Linked DNA regions of Homo sapiens: region 1 is linked to region 2. The links come from fine-mapping of genetic effects on gene expression. A gene starts in region 2. The other region holds a variant in brackets. All regions are shown on one strand. Distances are between the middles of the regions.

What was found. PIP is the estimated chance that this variant, and not a neighbour inherited with it, causes the effect.
Region 1: its variant is fine-mapped to the expression of ZNF641 in whole blood (INTERVAL, PIP above 0.99).

Annotation. Positions count from the first base shown.
Region 1 is chr12:48,269,441-48,272,359 of GRCh38, reverse strand. No RefSeq gene overlaps it. Among named protein-coding and RNA genes, the nearest start is that of H1-7, 58 kb to the left of the region's middle. The variant C/G (reference allele first, on the strand shown) is at 1,418.
Region 2 is chr12:48,349,736-48,352,654 of GRCh38, reverse strand. It overlaps ZNF641 (zinc finger protein 641), which reads left to right and starts at 1,736. Exons shown (of 6, transcript NM_001172681.2): 1 at 1,736-1,869. RefSeq lists silencers at 1,226-1,305, 1,586-2,015 and enhancers at 981-1,717, 2,156-2,225.

The sequences.
Region 1 (2,919 bases), 80 kb after region 2:
ACGTTCTGCTCATGTACCCTAGAACTTAAAGTATAATAATAATAAAAAAAATTCTAGGGCAGCCACTTAAAAACTGTAAAGATGTATAAATGATAAGCCAATAGTGAAGATAAAATGAAATCATTTAAAAAAGTTTAATACGGCTGGTCGTGGTGGCTCACGCCTATAATCCCAGCACTTTGGGAGGCCAAGGCAGGCGGATCAGGAGGTCAGGAGATTAAGACCATCCTGGCTAACATGGTGAAACCCTGTCTCTATTAAAAATACAAAAAATTAGCCGGGCGTGGTGGCAGGCGCCAGTAGTCCCAGCTACTCGGGAGGCTGAGGCAGGAGACAGGAGAATGGCCTGAACCCGGGAGGCGGAGCTTGCAGTGAGCCGAGATCGCGCCACTGCACTCCAGCCTGAGCAACAGAGCGAGACTTTGACTCAAAAAAAAAAAAAAAGTTAAATACAAAAGTAGGCAGAAAAATTCCACACCCATTTATTACCAAACCTCTTGGAAACTATGTATAGAAGGAAACCTTTCTGAACTGAAAAAGAATACCTTAAAAAATCTGCAGTAGTAGATATTCTAAGAGTACCTTAAAATAGTGTATTTAATAATGATGGACCAAATCTTTTTATCCTAAGACTGAGAAAAGGCAAAAATATCTGTTATCACCACTCTTATTCAACATTATACAGAAGGTCTAGCCTGTAAAATAATGCCAAAAGAAAAAAAGGAATAAAAAGAAAAGAAAGAAATGAGTGACAAAGAGAGAAGGTGGGCAGAGGGAGGAAGAAAAGGGATACAGATTAGAGAGAAATAAATGAGGCCGCGCGCAGTGGCTCACGCCTATAATCCCAGCACTTTGGGAGGCCGAGGCAGGTGGATCACAAGGTCAGGAGTTTGAGACCAGCCTGGCCAACATAGAGAAACCCCTCTCTACTAAAAATACAAAAAATTAGCCAGGTGTAGTGGCGGGCACCTGTAATCCCAGGTACTCGGGAGGCTGAGGCAGGAGAACCGCTTGAGCCTGGGAGGCGGAGATTGAAGTGAGCCGAGATAGCGCCACTGCGCTCCAGACCAGGCGACAGTGCGAGACTCCGTTTCAGAAAAAAAAAAAAAAAAAAAAAGAGAGAGAGAGAAAGACATAATGAAAGCTGTCTCTATTCACAGATGACATGGTTGTTGACAGAGAATCTGCAAAATAAGTCAGTTCAGCAACGTCAATGTCCAAAATTGTGTCTAACAAGACATCTACAATACCTTTATGATAAAAACTACAAAGAAAAAAAGAAATCAAAGGAGACATAAATAAGTGAAAAGATATATTGTGTTCATGAATTGGAAAACTAAATATTGTTAAAATATCCTTTCTCCCTCACTGATATATAGATTCAAAACAATCTCCATAAAGATACTAGACAAATTTT[C/G]GTAGAAATCAGAAAACGAATTCTAAAATGTATTTGGCAATGCAAATGAACTAAAGTATCCAAAACAATTTTGAAAAAAAGAACACAGCAGGTTATTTTGCAAGTATAAAAAACGGATTCTTCAGTTTATACAGAAAGGCAAAAGACCCAAAATAGCCAACACAATATTGAAGGAGAACAAAATTGGAGAACTGACACTCCCCAGCTTCAAAGCTCAATATAGGGGGAGAGCATTAGGGAAAAGAGCTAAAGCATGTGGGGCTTAATACCTACCTGATGGGTTGATAGGTGCAGCAGACCACCATGGCACATGTTTATTTACCTATGTAACAAACCTGCACATCCTGCACATGTACCCTGGAACTTAAAAAAAAAAAGACTTAATATAAAACTATAATAATTAGAAGTGTGGTATTGGCAAAAAAAAGAAAGAAAGAAATAGGCTAATGGAATGGAATAGTGAGCCCAGACATAAACCCATACAAATATAGTCAATTGATCTTTGACAAAGGAGCAAAGGCAATTAAACAAAGAAAGGATATTCTTTTCAACAAATAGTGCTGAAAAAAATTAGACATCCACATGCAAAGAAATGAATCTACACATAGATTTTACACCTTTCACAACAATTAACTCAAATACATTATAGACCTAAATATAAAATTAAAAACTATAAAAATACTAGAAATAATATAGAAGAAAATCTAGGTGACCTTAGCTTTGACAATGACTTTTTAGATAACACCACCAACAGCATGATGCATAAAAGAAAAAGCTAAGTTGTATTTCACTAAAATTAAAAACTTGTGCTTTTGTGAAAGCCAATGCTCAGAGAATAAAACCAGCCATAGACTGCAAGAAAATATTTGCAAAACATGTATCTGTTATGGGACTGGTGTCCAAAATATACAAAAATGTTTATAACTCAACAATAAGAAAACAACAACCTAATCAAACAGTGGACAAAAATCTGAGCAGACTCCTCACCAAAGAAGACATGCAAATGGAAAATGTGTGTATGAAAAGATGTTCAATCATCTATCATTAGGGAATTGCAAATTAAAACATCAGTGTGATACAACTGCATACCTATTAGGATGGCTAAAATCCCAAATATTGGCAACACAAATGCTAGCAAGGATGTGGAGCAATGAGAAGTCTCATTTATGGCTGATGGGAATGCAAAATTGTACAACCATTTTGGAATCCAGTTTGGCAATTTCTTACAAAACTAAACATGCTCTTACCATATGATCCAGCAGTCACAGTCCTTGGTATCTACTGAATGAGATGAAAACTGCACACAAATGTTTATAGCAGCTTTTTTTCACAACTATCCAAACTTGGAAGCAACCAAGATGTCATTCAGTAGGTCAATGGATGAACAGACTGTGGTACATCTTTACAGTGGAATATTATTCAACAATAAAAAGAAATTAGCTATGAAGCCACAAAAAATATATGGATGATCCTTAAATATATATTGCTATGCGAAAGAAGCC
Region 2 (2,919 bases):
CCCAGCCACCCTTCTGGGTAGGGCCATGTGACCATGCGCATGAGTTCTGGCTAAGGGAATGGGGTGAAAATGATACACACCACTTCCAGGACTGGCCCCTAATATCTCTGACAAGTTAACCACGGCCAGCCTCCCTTATCTGAGGGCCACAGATTTGACTACATTACCAAGGCCTCGGCATGGGAGAACCACCAAATGCAAGAAGCCTGGTCCTTCAATGAATTCAAGAAGTACAGACCCCACCCTCTGGCCCCAACCAACTTGTTACCACACTGTGACTTGTATGAACATAAGCCTTTATGGAGTTAAGCCCCGAGATACTGGTTTTGCTAGCCTACTCCAATTAACGCACCTTATATTTACCACCAGTGGTAGCATAAGTGAAAAGAACCCCTGGACTTAGTTCCAGGACCCGGGATAAAAATTCTGGCTCTACTACTACCCCGACATATCCCATGATCTGCTCCTAGAATATGCTCTATACTCTTCCCAACTGCGTGTCTACTGCATTTTCCTCTTTCATTAGACAGCCCTCCTGACTCTTCTCTGCCTCACGATTTCTGTCAGAGTGGGGGGCCTTCTCTGACCTCCGTCCCATACGTGGTCACTTCTCTTTGCTTCAAGTGCAGCGTACGTTCCTCTGTTTTAGAATCTACGTTTTTATTGCAAATATTTGTTGACATGTGCTTCCCCAGACTGTGAATCCTTTAACTCCCAGCATTTAGTTACAGTGTCTGGCACACGTAGAAAATAAATATGCATTAAACGAATGATTGTCACATATGACCTTAAGTGAGTCAATTATTTTTTAAGTCTACTAAATAAAATTTTTGAAAATTGTTGTAATGATGAAATAAGGAATGTGAATGTGACTTGTAGGTTATAAACAGATTCTAACAGCAATGGGTTTACTCACTGTTTGTAGGCCCTTCTCATCTTTTCTAGTCAAATCCATCTTAATGCTGCAAGGTAGCACTATCCAATAGAAATATAATGCAAGCCATATTTATAGCCACATTTAAAAAGTTAAAACCAGGTGAAATTAATTTTAATATATTTAACCCAATATACCCAAAATATCACTTTTTAAATTAAATCTTCTAAATCTTGGAACACATCTCTATTCAGACCAGCCACATTTCGAGAGCTCAGGTGTCACCTGCGGCTACGGCTCCCGCAAATGGGACAGCAGCCGCAAGGCCAACTTCAGATAGCAACCTGACTTCCCCTCAGGCAGAATAAGTGACTCCTCCTCAGTGCTCTCTCAAGCCCTTTATCCTATCGTGAAAACTAGAGGGTACGCTCCTTGAGGAATTCCAGACTGTTGTCTGGAGAAATCGCTCTCGGCCTCGGTCTGGCCTGTAACGGGCGGTTACGCAATTCCAGGTAATTGACGAACCCTGAGGACAGAACTCCGTGGGAGGCCCAGTAGCCAGAGCGGAAAATGGTCAGTCAGGCAAGAGTGCGGGCAAGTGGCCACAGCAGGCTGCGATTCCGGCGCCCGCCGCCCTCCAAGCGTCTCGGGCCGCACCCTCCCCACAGCGGCGGGCGCGGAGGTCCCGGGTTCGCGTTTGGGGGCGCCTGAGCCGCAGCCCCGCCCCCTCCCGTCCCTCCCTCCCTCCCTCCCTCCCACTCCTCTCCCTCCCACTCCTCTCCCTCCCACTCCCCGCACCTCCGCCGCCGCAGAGCCCCGGAAGCGGGCGGGGATTTCCTGTGCCCGCCCCGCCCCGCCCGCGCCTGCCGGGCCGCCGTCTCCGCCTGTCGCTGGCTCCGCCGGCCGCCGGCTCCCAGACGCAAGCGGAGGGCGGAGGGGAGGGGCAGGCGGCGCCCGGGAGGGAGGCACCGGGCCGCGGGCCAAGCCTACCGGGGGTGAGTGGAGCCGGGCCGGAGGGAGCTGCGGCTGGAGGGAGGGACGCCTGGCTTCCCGGGGCGGCTGGTGGGGGCTCGGTCACCCATAGGGGCTGGGAGGAGGATCGGCGCGTCTTCCGGGTTGCTGCCTTTCCCGGGGGTCTGCCCCGCTGACATTCTGTGCCCGCCTCTCGCCCTGTCTCCCCGTGCCCATCGCAACTGTCAGGCCCTGCGGGCTCCCGCCGCTGTCACTCGCGCACAGGTTACCCCGTGGCTCCCTTTCTCTTCACTTGCTCATGCCCCAGCTCATGGGAAACCTGTTTTCTGACCTCACTTCCCCTGCTCCAGTTCTGCCTTGCTCGGATTCTCTGAAATCTGACCCTTTCCAGGGGCACTGTGACAAGAAGAAGGGAAGAAGCAACCTTACCCCTGAGCAGGCTCCCGTCCCGCCCATGCCCTACCCGTGGCAGGGGCCAGGGTTCTCTGATGGACGGAGCCAACTCGTCCGTGTGCCCTTGGGCTACTCATTTTTATAACATGGCCCCTTTTCTGTTCATCAGCACTGGCTGCAGAAACTTCCTTTTGCAGGTCCCTTGCTACCCATATGTGTGAAGAAAAGGGGGAAATGAAAGCCCTAGAACCCACACTGCAGTGGGCATGGGATCATCCTGGAACCAGGAGAAACGAGGTTAGGGCTACCACCTTAACCGCCCAGGTGCTGGCTCTGCGTGAATATCTTAGGAAATGCAAGCTGAGGACAGGTACCCATCCCATCCTTTGCTGAGATTTTTGCTAGCACTTCCACGGATTTCTGTCAGTGGTATAGAAAAACTTACAGCTGGCCCAATGGGCTCTGCACAAAGAGGCTTCCCATTAAGAGACTCTGCTACCTGGGGGAGATGGAGAAAGGGTTTGAGACAAGTGTCCAGATATGTAGCTAGAGGTAAAGCCTTCAGGGAGGATTTGCACAGGAGCTAGAGAACCAGAAAGATGGGACGAAGAGGGAGAATTAGTGCCCTGTGTGTTAAAAGTGGATACAGAGCTGGAATTCAGAGAAGAGAGCTAAAATGG